3 separate regions of the Homo sapiens genome follow, and regions 1 and 3 are each linked to region 2. The links come from fine-mapping of genetic effects on gene expression. A gene starts in region 2. Each other region holds a variant in brackets. All regions are shown on one strand. Distances are from middle to middle. Region 1 has its middle 66 kb from the start of DDX18. Region 2 holds the start of INSIG2 (insulin induced gene 2). Region 3 has its middle 70 kb from the start of LINC01956.

Evidence for each region. PIP is the estimated chance that this variant, and not a neighbour inherited with it, causes the effect. A credible set is the group of variants that fine-mapping cannot tell apart.
Region 1: its variant is the best candidate, but not a certain one, in a credible set for the expression of INSIG2 in whole blood (INTERVAL, PIP 0.62).
Region 3: its variant is the best candidate, but not a certain one, in a credible set for the expression of INSIG2 in testis (GTEx, PIP 0.88).

The regions. Positions count from the first base shown.
Region 1 is chr2:117,746,613-117,750,856 of GRCh38, reverse strand. No RefSeq gene overlaps it. Among named protein-coding and RNA genes, the nearest start is that of DDX18, 66 kb to the left of the region's middle. The variant A/C (reference allele first, on the strand shown) is at 1,789.
Region 2 is chr2:118,086,521-118,090,764 of GRCh38, reverse strand. INSIG2 (insulin induced gene 2) reads right to left here and starts at 2,294. Exons shown (of 6, transcript NM_016133.4): 1 at 2,224-2,294. LOC107985940 (a long non-coding RNA gene) reads left to right here and starts at 2,334. Exons shown (of 3, transcript XR_001739662.3): 1 at 2,334-2,514. RefSeq lists enhancers at 2,340-2,529, 2,540-2,589.
Region 3 is chr2:118,764,026-118,768,269 of GRCh38, reverse strand. No RefSeq gene overlaps it. Among named protein-coding and RNA genes, the nearest start is that of LINC01956, 70 kb to the left of the region's middle. The variant C/A (reference allele first, on the strand shown) is at 2,327.

The sequences.
Region 1 (4,244 bases), 340 kb after region 2:
TTTTCTCAGGTTTGTCAAAGATCAGATAGTTGTAGGTATGCGGCGTTATTTCTGAGGGCTCTGTTCTGTTCCATTGATCTATATCTCTGTTTTGGTACCAGTACCATGCTGTTTTGGTTACTGTAGCCTTGTAGTATAGTTTGAAGTCAGGTAGTGTGATGCCTCCAGCTTTGTTCTTTTGGCTTAGGATTGACTTGGTGATGCGGGCTCTTTTTTGGTTCCATATGAACTTTAAAGTAGTTTTTTCCAATTCTGTGAAGAAAGTCATTGGTAGCTTGATGGGGATGGCATTGAATCTGTAAATTACCTTGGGCAGTATGGCCATTTTCACGATATTGATTCTTCCTACCCATGAGCATGGAATGTTCTTCCATTTGTTTGTATCCTCTTTTATTTCCTTGAGCAGTGGTTTGTACTTCTCCTTGAAGAGGTCCTTCACATCCCTTGTAAGTTGGATTCCTAGGTATTTTATTCTCTTTGAAGCAATTGTGAATGGGAGTTCACTCATGATTTGGCTCTCTGTTTGTCTGTTGTTGGTGTATAGGAATGCTTGTGATTTTTGTACATTGATTTTGTATCCTGAGACTTTGCTGAAGTTGCTTATCAGCTTAAGGAGATTTTGGGCTTAGACGATGGGGTTTTCTAGATAAACAATCATGTCGTCTGCAAACAGGGACAATTTGACTTCCTCTTTTCCTAATTGAATACCCTTTATTTCCTTCTGCTGCCTGATTGCCCTGGCCAGAACTTCCAACACTATGTTGAATAGGAGCGGTGAGAGAGGGCATCCCCGTCTTATGCCATTTTTCAAAGGGAATGCTTCCAGTTTTTGCCCATTCAGTATGATATTGGCTGTGGGTTTGTCATAGATAGCTCTTATTATTTTGAAATACGTCCCATCAATACCTAATTTATTGAGAGTTTTTAGCATGAAGGGTTGTTGAATTTTGTCAAAGGCTTTTTCTGCATCTATTGAGATAATCATGTGGTTTTTGTCTTTGGCTCTGTTTATATGCTGGATTACATTTATTGATTTGCATATATTGAACCAGCCTTGCATCCCAGGGATGAAGCCCACTTGATCATGGTGGATAAGCTTTTTGATGTGCTGCTGGATTCGGTTTGCCAGTATTTTATTGAGGATTTTTGCATCAATGTTCATCAAGGATATTGGTCTAAAATTCTGTTTTTTGGTTGACACACAGTTGTTTTATAGTGGCAGGTAGGGTATACATGGTGGACATAGAAGTTTTCCAGGTAGGGCATAAATGATAGGTATAGAAGTTTCCAGTTGTTCTGATTATCTATTATTATGTAACAATTCATCCCAAAACTTAATGTATTAAAGCAAGCCAAGGATTCAGGAGCAATTTAGTGGAGCAGTTCTGGCTCAGGGTCTGTATAAGGTTGCCGTCAGGCAGTGGCCCGGGCTGGGGTCATGGGTGAGGCTTATTCACTAACATGTCTGGCACCTGTGCTGAGAAAACAGAAGCAGCTGGGAGACAGTGTAGTGTGACAGGTCTCCCACCAGGTTACTTAGGAGTGTATGTCCACTGCCTGAACCCTGAAGGCCAGGTGGTGAGCCAAGGCCATGGTGCCCAGCCGAGGAACAGGTGTCCTTGAGAACCGAAACATCTCACAGAGTATCTGGGGACATAACAAAGAAAATATTCCCATCACACACACACACAGGAGGCAAAGAGCCAGAAAATCAGCTTAAAAGCAGCTTAGGGATGGGAGACAGAGTGGATCTTCTGAGCTGCCCTGCCCAGGAGTGCCCTGTATGCA[A/C]GTCTTCATAAACTCATCTACTTGTCAGGCTGGACTTGTCCAAGTCATTCTTTGGTCTCTTTGCTCCTTCCCAGTTGCGGGAGGAGAGGGAGGGAGATGTTATAGTCCAAAGTTTTTCTCATAGCTGATGGAACAGCAGGAGCCATTGGGGACTTTTGGCCATCTCTCTCCATCTCTATTTGGCTTCTCCATATAGTTTATCTTGCTTGGTGGCTTCATGGTGTATGGACTTCTTACATGGTGGTTCAGGGCTTTAAAAGGCACATGTCTCTAAAGAGGGTGAAAGGCATAAGCCATTATCACCTTTCATAACTAGTCTTGGATATGGTGCAGCATGGATTTCATGTATTCTATGCGTGGAAGCTGTCATAGGCTTGCTCAGGATTAAGAGGAGGAGAAATAGATTTCATCTCTTGACGGGCAGCGAGGCAAGGTCCTGGAAGAGCATGTGGGACCAGAAATATCCCTGTGGTTCTTTCTAGAATATGCAGACTGCCACTGCATACTTTTCTTTTTGTAAATAGTCTTCTTAAATTGATGCATAATAGATGTACGTAGTTTTGAGGAATACATGATAATTTCATACATAGTATAATTGGTAAAGATCAAATAAGTGTATTTGGGATATCTATCACCTTAAATATTTGTCTTGTCTTTATGCTAGAAACATTCAAATTATTCTCTTGTAGCTATTTTGAAACGTACGATAGATTATGGTAAACTATAGTCACCCTACCGATCTTTCTAACACTAGGTCTTAATTCTTCTATCAAACTGTGTATTTGTGTCCATTATAATATTTTCCTTAATGAGAGGGTGTGCAGGCGCAGTGTCGAAACCTCCACAGCTGAGGTGGTGCTTCGACAGTTCAACTATGGGTAGGAGTTGACAGTCTGGATTAGATAGGCAGGACATATTTATTATTCCCACTTTCTATAGGGAAAAACCAAGGTATAAAAAAGTTGATAAAGACACCTAAGGTCAGCAGCTTTTGTAAAGGAAGTGCTGAAAATGGTTTATATTTTCTTCACCTTTAGCTCAGTTCTTGAGACAGCCAAGAGATTCTCACCCAGGGTGTGGAGCATTTTCTCACCCCAGCTCCAAGAGGCACAACAGAAGCTCCCAGAATGGGGCCTGAGAGCTTTGGTTTATCAGAAGGAAACAGATGTTAGAAAAGGTAAAATATGTTGGATTAGATCCTCTTGCTGCAATTAATTGTAGACTTGTTTCTTGAGTTCTTTGATTCTGATATCTGTTGTTTAATTAATGAGGAATTCTTAATATGAAATCCCAGATATTGGAGATTCTAGGAAGAAGCCAGATATTGAATTTGAGGGGAAAAGAAAAACCTTTACTTCATAGAGTTAATTCCTCAAGGAGTTTCCAGGTAAATAGTTAGGATTGAGTTAGTGATTCACTGCTTTCTCCTCTTGTCTGATGTATGTAGACCTTTGGAGATTATTGAATGTGGAGAATACTTTCATTCTTTAGAGATTTTCAGGTCAATATGTGTTTATTGAGAGCCTGCTATGTGCCAGAAACTGTTACAAGTTGCGGGAACAAAATGCATGTACCACAGTATTTCCTCTCAAAGGGCTTACATATAGTTACTTTAAATGTCAAACTAGAAATGCTATGATATCTCGATATGTATGCACTGCTATGCCAGCACTGACATTGCTCTGGGGGATAGGGGCGGTCCTGCAGGAAGGCATGGTGGGCAGAGTCAGGAAAGATGCACAGGAGTTCCCAGGCACAGCAGGTGGGAAGCAGGCAGAATAAAAAAAAACACACATGCACACACAATCTCGTGGAGCTTCATGCAATCCAGTATTAACTGAATTGGTAAGGATCGTGAATAAAATTCATTTTCTGTCCTGTCATAGTAGATTCCATTTGTCCACATCAGTTGGATTTCTTAGCTAATGCCTTCCTGCACCTTTATGGATCAGATATAGAACGACTCTATCTTCTCATTTGCTTAAACAAATTATAAATATATAAAGTGGGAAGCATTGACTGTATTTCAAATCCTCTTTGTGTAGTTCATAGAGCTGCAGTTCCCATACCTTGTCAATATTAACCTTTCAAGTCAGTTTTCACTTTGGGTGCACGGAGTTCTCAATCTTCAGGAACTAACTGCTTTGCTGATACCAGGGAGGATTCGATTCCTGTTTTAAATGTGTTTCTACTTGTAGTCTTCCCCTTAAATGAAAAGATTGGCTATGTCTTGCTTTAACAGCAACTTTTCAGTTTCCAACACATTTGATTTGTGGCTGCCAGGGAAAGCAGAACCAAGGATCTTCAGACAAAAATTCCAGAGCCTCTGCTTCTGCTATAGGCTTTGCATCTCTCTTTGCTGGGGTGCTTTCTTGATAATTCTCAGAGGTTTGTCCTATCTCAGGTTCATAAATGTGCCTGAGTCATTACCACACGTCACAGCGAGGCTGATCGAT
Region 2 (4,244 bases):
ACATGGTACAAAACAATTTAAGTGCCACACAAGAAACCGTTTTTAAAATCATGTTGGTAAACTACTATTAATACCAAAATAATGTTTTCAACAATTCACAAAGAAAAACTTTCCACCAGACTTGAAAAATTCTACGCTGAGCCCTGGCCTAAAATTTCTGGAAAGTACAATACTAAACAAAAAGAAAAAAAGTTGAAATAATTTGCATAGATCAATGATGAATCATCAATACTGGAAAAACATTATTCCAGGTGTATGGCTGCCTATTAATGGATTGATATTATTACTTTCAGGTTAAAAAAGAGTTATAAGTGATTATGAGCTTCGTGAATAAAAATCAAGGTTCATGTTGGCCACTGAAACAACTTAGAGGCAACAAGCATTTGAAAACAAACACACATACAAAATCTTCTAGTAACCTTAAGAACCTGTTGCATTGTAACAACTGCAACACCCCCTAAAACCAAATGACAAGACCATTCCTCTTCCAATGATTAGCCGTAAAAGAAGTATTTTTACTCCCTCAGATAACCCTGTTTCTTCAGGTGCTTAGGTCACGTAAGCTACTAAATAATAAAGTTAAATTACTACCTCACATATTTTTCATCATATGCTCTCTTAATTAGAATAGCATTCTTGAAATAGAATAAGCACTAACATTAGAAAAAAACAGACTTAAATCAATGCAACAGTTTAATGCTCCCTAAATAAAAACACATCTACATGTATCATGGGCTAGAGACGTTAAAAATTTCTAGGAAGAAAAGCAATATTTGCCTTATAAACACTGCAACTCTTTCCTCTCAACATTAAAACCCAAACATAGAAACCAGTAAGTTAGCTGCATTTACAGCCCCTTACAGGTTTTAAATGTCACATCTCAGTGCCTAAAAAAGTTACTCCATCGTTTCGAGATAAGTTTCTGAGAACAAAGAAAACTCTTTAAACTACTGAACTGCATTTTATTCTTTCCTTTTCCGTGTGACCATCTGCAAAAGCAACAGTTGTCAGTTAAACAGAATCAACCTCTTTCCCGAGTGGACATGATTCACAGCTTGGTCACTGTACAGCAGATGTGAACTGAGAACTACGACATAACACAATGACAAAACACAGTACTGAGCACAAAGTACAGGGAAAGAATGAAAGACAGAAAACAGGAAGAGCACACGTCTGATTTTTGTTTTCTTTGGGGCCCCCATTAGTAGCATTCCCTTCATCCATCTTCATTCAGTGGTTCACTATCAGGGCCAAACCCAAAAGTTACAAAACACCATCTAGCTACTGTCTGGCTGCTTTTATTTTTTCTGCACCAGGACGGGAGCACGCATTCCCCTGCAGTCCTCAGCTCCACCGCAATACTGATACCAAACAGTTTCAGTGGCCCAGCTGCCAAGCCTAACCATTCCTTTTTAAAGCATTTCTTCATCAATCCTACAAAACAGCAAGTTCTTCATGGTATATTTTCCTAGAGCATCTAGCTAATATCATACTTTAACAACTTTTTCCAACGTTAACTGGACATGGGTCATTATCACTTAAGTGTTAGCGCCATTGCCCGCGCCCACTCCCATAATCCACACTGCTTTCCTTCTCCATATTGCCAATCCCCACTAAGCAACCCTAAAATCTAGTAATTATCATCAAATCCACTTCTAGGCCCTGGCAAGAATTATTTGGCTTTACCGAAACACCTATTCCATAGGTAACCAATTCCAGTCAAAAATGCCAGAGTATTACTCCTCAACCCAATGCCCTATCTCCTTAGTGGATTATAAACTTACTACGACAACCTGTCTTCTTTGGATCCAATCCCCGCCCAAGTCTGAGTCTTCTCTCCCAGGCTACAAGCCCCCAAGTCCTGGCAGCTCTATGCTTGACAGCTCGCTGACCTCCACCTCATCAGACCATTGGGTCGCCCTTCTCGCCGTCCTCCAGCCTTCTTCCCGCTCAGACACTCATCCACTGTCCGGGGAGCCTCGACCCCTCCTATACCCCCTCCCCGATCCCGCAGTCCCCTTCTGGACCTTGCGGACCCCTCTCAGGTAAGCGGAGCCCCTTGCCCTGCAGGCCCATCAGTGGTCCTGGCTCCCCGCACCTGCCACCAGGGTTCCCAGGCTGCAAAAACACAAGTAGTTCTTCTTCCCAAGGGCCACCCTCCTCCTCAGGCCGCTTTCCTCAGCACCACGTCACCCGCGCTTCGCCGGGAGACCCCCAACTCACCCCCGCCTCCGCCATCTTCTGGGACCAGCCCCCGTACCCCCTACCGCCTCTTCCTCCTCCACTCCCACAACTCCGCCCGAGCTCCACTGCGCCTGTGCGGCCAACGAGGCCGCGCGCAGGCGATCGGGGCAGAAGAGCTTCCGGTTCCTGCTGTCAATAAGACGTGGACCTGCGAGCCGGGGCAAAAGGGCTTCCGGTCTGCGGGAAACTGGAGGCTAGCGGTGGGCGTGGACCGTCGAGGTGACTGGCGGTTGTCGGATCTGCTGTTGTTTGCTGACCAGGCAGCCGTAGGTAATGACGGATGCCCAGACCCTGTGGGCGGAGTAAAGGAATCATGCACTGATACACGCACACTCACCGAGGGGCGCGTCCGTCTGCGTGCCCCTCATCTCGTAGCCGAAAGGAGCGCGTTCCGGGGCAGGCCTCCGGGTACTTCCCGCAGAGGACCGGGCTTTATACTCTTTGCTCCTTTTCCTCCCCTAGTAAGTCATAACTTATTTTGGGAGAAGGGCATAGTTATTTGTCTCTCGTCTCCATGCTACAGCACTTTATGTGCTTTTCATTCAAAATCGTTCCTCGAGGACGACCAAGTAATGTGATTTGGGGGACAGTTTTCATAGGAAGGGCTTTATAAGTTTACACCAACATAAAGAAAACTTAAAAACCTTATAACCGCTTATTTTTCAGAAGTATTATTTTTCATTTAATCTAAAACCATACTTTTAGAACATGAAACCAAGCCAAACAGATCTTTGCAGATTGTGCAAGCGAACTTTTTTTTTTGAATGAAAGTGGTGCCATCAATGCAAAAGCAAGCCCATATAAGTGCCGAAAGGTACTCGTCATAAGGAGGAGTTGCTTCCCTATTCTGAATTTTTATTTATTTTTATTTATTTATTTATTTGAGACGGAGTCTCTCTCTGTCACCCAGGCTGGAGTGCACTGGCATGATCTCGGCTCACTGCAACCTCTGCCTCCCGGGTTCAAGTGATTCTTCTGCCTCAGCCTCCCCAGTAGCTGGGACTACAGGTACATGCCACCATGTCTGCCTACTTTTTGTATTTTTAGTAGAGATGGAGTTTCATCATATTGGCCAGGCTGGTCTCAAACTCCTGACCTCGTGATTCGCCCGCCTCATCCTCCCAAAGTGCTGGGATTACAGGCGTGAGCTGCCCCCTGAATTTGTTTTTTTTAAGCAACTCTTTTTAAAAAGAGAGAAAAAATAATCTCTCTTGAGTGTATTAGTTATTGAGCTATTCCATTTGGAGGTGGCTTAACCCAAAACGTGTATGGATGTGGTAAGATTACAATGGACTTGAATGTTCTAGATGAAATCTGGGCCGAGAGTAATTGCATAATAGTTTTCCAAAGGACTGTCAGATGGTAAACTCCTTTCATTTACTTTGAACTGATAAACGATAAGATGGATTTTTGTTTTTTGACCTTTTTATCTACATTTACTTCTGAAAATTGAAAAAGAATCTGAATTCCAACAAAATGTTTCTAGGCAAGTATTTGCATGATGCTTCTCTAACATTTCCTATATCTTAGTGTTTTCTCTAATGTTTTCTGTAGCTTTCAAATTTCACTCCTGTAAGTTTTTACACTACCAGTAAGAAAGATCTGGGCCAATTATACAGAATGGACGATGATTTTTAAAAGAATAGAGAAAGCATTCAGAAAAGAGACAATAATTTGAAAATGTTCTGACATCATGTATTTCCTTAAAGCAATACAAGTCCTGTATGTCCAGTTCATGTCTACTCCAACCGAGCTTTTTTCAGACACTTAGAAATTGCCTTCAAGAAAATCCTTATGGAACATTGTAACCTAGAGGGGCATTTATTTTCGTTTAAATATGTATTAATTGCAAGTAGTGACAGAACCTAAAAAGCAAAAACCATATAGCACCAGTTCCAAGGTTCCTATATCTAATGCAGTTACTCCTACTGCAGTACAAGGAGGAATATAAAATCCCTAGGAGAAATACAAAAGGCCATTGTCTTCTTTGACCAGATTTG
Region 3 (4,244 bases), 680 kb before region 2:
CAATATTAAGGTGCAGTAAAACTGGATTTTTCATCTGAATGACATCAAACATCTATATGCAAATGGTGGGATCCTTAGATATTTTCAAATAGAAGAATTATTTGGAAATATTGGGGAATCATGCAGCTTACAAATAGAATTTTTCAGATTTTAGCCAGATGGCAGGGTTCTGAGACCTCTGATTTAGCTCTTATCTGCACAGGTATTCTGAAAACCTAGAGTAGGAGCTTCTCTTTAGGCATCCAGTTAGGATTGCTGAAATGATACAAAACACATTTTTTTTTTTGGCTTGCTTAACTGCAGGTGTTTTGGCTACATTAACTGCATCAAGCTGTCTGTCCTCACTATGTCCTGGGAGCCTAGCTCTTTGGAGAAAGAAGAGTTTGACCAGCTCCTCCAATTCTGGTTTTCATCCTGCCCTCATTATCCTCCATTGGAAAGAAGTGAAGGAAAGCCTCTGATGAGGGAAAGAAATGACAATTTCTAAGTATTTTAAGTAAAAGTGCTAGACACTGGGCTCTCTTCTTCTAAGGTTGTCAGATAAGAGGTGAAGTTGCCAATAATTTGTTGGTTTGGCATCACTTATTTTGAAAAGTACATTCCCTGCTTCCAACAGAAATTTTGAGCATTTCTTATCCCCCCTATATATTCCAGCAAATTCACAAAGCTGCAAATATCACTGCCTCAGATAACTGGGGAAGTAGTATATCTGTGGCAGAACAAATAGAAGAAGAAATGAATTGTCTGCAAAAAAAAAAAAAAGAATGGGTTTGTATGAAGATGCTTATGCACAGATTTATAAGTTCATAAAAATGCCACATTTAGAATATTCATCTTAATGCAGAGCTATTTCCTTTTATGGAAAATAATTCTTAATAAAAATTCCATCAACCTTAGTAAACCTTTCAATTTAAGTATTTCTTTTGTTTCTTGCATGAGAGGAGATTTTTTTCTCAGTTAGGACTTGCTGATATATTTGTTCCCCTGTTAGAGGAGAAAACTTTGCTGATGACACCTTTAATATGGGGAGAAAAACAGAAGAAGGACCCTCTCGCCTCTGGTTTGTTTTCTTGAGCTTGTAATTTTAAAATATCTTCTTACAGGAGCCCTACTACGTGAACTGTCAACGGAGTAGAAGTCAAGCAAAGGTGACTTGCTGCCTGCCACATCTGCCTCCCGCTGTGAAATCACAACAAGGCAACCACGAATAGCTGGTAAAAGTCCCAGTCTTCAACGCAGTGGTGTAATTTCCTATGATAAATAGCTTGGAAGAATGCTAATCAAAATTACTTTCTGGTTCTACCTTATTCAGCAAGACAAATGCATGACAAGGCCCCAGAGGCAGGGATTTGCTTTAATTTGAGGATGTCTTTGCTCAAATCTGTCTGACCATGTTGGCAGCCACCCCCCACCCAACTCTGTGCACCTGGGTGGGGCATGGGCCCATCTGTCTTGGCACCATGGCCTTTTCACCTGCAGACCTGCCTCTGTAGCCTGAGCACCATTTACCTCATCCATTGCCAGAAGTTACTCTCTCACATGCTTCAAATTTACTTTCCAGAAAGCAAAAGGGCTTCCAATGATTTGAAGAGAGTGATGCTGACAGTGTGCATTATTACCATTCTCATCTCTAGGAACTCCCACTTTTTTCAGCAGGCTGATGGGCATATGTGGTCTACATGGCCAAACGGGCAAGAAGATGTAAGGAAATCTTTTTTTTTTAACTTAGATAATTTGTTTTTTAAACTTGGATACTTGGATCACAAGAGAAAATTTCGAGAGACTTTGACTTGAGGCACCATTTCCACATGGGTTGAAGGATTTCAGGAAGAGTCCCAAGTAGGGCAACCAGATCTGCTAAGAGGATGTCACTGCAGTTTCTGGACTCAGCTAATGACATCAGGGAAAAGGGAAGGTCATTTTCCTTTGTATGAAATGGCAAACATGTGAGCAGGGATTTGTAAACTCAGACTACACCACAGGCAGGCTTCAGTGTTTGACGCCTTCTGTTTTTATTGCTTTGTGAGACTGACCAATTAAAACAACCCAAAGGCCACGTTTATGAATATCTCTCTGATGGGACCAACTTCCCTTGCTGTGAGCCTCGCACAGTGGCTATGTATGGACATCATCTGAGTAGGAAATATTGCCCTGGAGTGAGAGGGATTCCACAGAGTGGGTTTCTCTCCCCCTCCTAGGTCTTAACCTTTCATAGCAAGACAGACAACCAGGAAAGTAGGAAATCGAAACAAGCTATGTTTAGCTGAATTTTACATACCATAATCTCTTTACCATGGTCAAGCAAGGCAGGAATGCTCAGGCCAAT[C/A]GGTTCTGGCTCAAATCCATTCCAGAGGGGAGTGATTTACAACTTAGCACCATCTTCGTCTCTTCCCTGAGAGTGAAGTTAAATGACCCAAGAATAACATTAGTCTGCACCAGACCTCGCGAGAATGATCTTCCTAAGGGTGGTCCTGGGCATGGGTTTTCACCTGCAGAAACTCAAGCCCAGACATCCCTCCAAAGCCCTGGTAAGGGTCAAGTAGCATTCCTATGTTAAGAACCGACAGTGTGGTGAGTTACGAGGTCTTAGGGAAGAGTGGAGTCTGGCCCAGAGGCCTTTTGTTGCTTCCTCACCAGTGAATCTTAAGTTGTCCCAGGCCAGGGATACACATGCATATGTATTTCAGCCTCCTCCCCACTTCATGCCCCAAGAAAAGGCCCTTCTGTCTCATGCTTGATATAAAAAGATTGCAAGGTGTTAGAAGGCAAGTTAATGGGTAACCCAGGGCAGAGAAAGAAACAGGGCAGAGGTTTGTCACTTCAATGGTTAAAATATCTTGATGTAAAAATGAGCCCCTTAAAATAGTCCGGGAGGGCCCAAAAAACCACCCGACGGGGCTTATAAATAGACGAGCGAGATGTTGAAATTATTTTAAGACAGATGCCTTTTAAAACTGTATTCAGAACATCTTTTGGGGCTCCTAGTTGCACAGTTCCTCAAGCAGGAGGTATTTCATCTTCGCAACATCTGGAACTGTCAAAGAGGTAGCGCTGCAGACCTCAACAGATGCAGACACTTCTACATAAAAGTGCACCAACAAATCATGGCCATAATTGCAGAACAACACGAATGTTTCACAGGCAGCTGTGGAGAAAACAATGCTCTGGCAGGGAGGAAAACTTACTGTAACCCCCAAACCCCTCCACTTTTATTGCTGAATCACTCCTTTAAGCAACTTTTCCACAGTTCTCCACCAAGAGGCTAACAATTGCAAGCAAGTTTATTTTCTCAGCTTGTAATCAGGAGATGATTGACAAGGAGGTCTTTTTTTCCCCTTTGGGGTAAAAATTTTTTTATCCCACAAATCGGTAGCCTTGACTTGGTTGGGTAAATTTGTGATGTTGCTCAAAGTAATCTCCATGCTTGGTTTGGTTTTTCAGGTGAGGGGCAAGTGACAGCCCTTTGATACATGAAGGGGGCCAGTGTGTCCCCACATTGCCTTCCTGTGATGGGCAAAGCCACGTGGCAAAGTCAGACCTGGCTGGGATGCCCTATACAACCGGGACCCTGAGAACTCAGCCTTCCATTAGAACTCAGAACAAAACTGATATTTTGATTTGTCATTTCAGAGGCAGAGGCTCAAAAATACTTTAGAAACCTGTGGCCCGATGCATCGCTTGAAATTTTTATGCAGCTGAGGGCTGGAGTGCGGTGGGAGAAATAAAAGTGGGAGGAACGCCACAAAGGACCATGTTAGAACTTAACACAACTGTTCTATAAATTATGGTGACAAAACAAATACTGCTAATACTGATGATAATGATAAATGCTTTTAATCAGTTTTACTAAAGCATTTTAAATCTTGTGGGACAGATGGGAAAATAAAACTTGCTGTTGGAACCTTGGGATTTATAAGAAACTCCTTGGTCAACATTATAAGGAGGACGGAATCTTCCAAGGTGAAGAAGAGAAGCTGGTGTGATAAAATTTCTATCATCATCACGTTTTCGCTTTGCTTTAATGGCAAATTAACACTCACCCTAGTTGTTAAACACATCCTTTCAATTAATCTCCCAGCCGGTGAAGTGCTGCTCCCTGGATCTTGAGCAATGTGGGTTGCCTGACCCACGTCAGGGCCAAGGAAACTGGCGGGCATGGTCAGGGGTGGAAGCGGGTGACAGTTATTTCAGGGGTCAAGTGTTTAAACATCTGGTGCCTCCCTGAAGCCAGCTTTGGCTCGGAC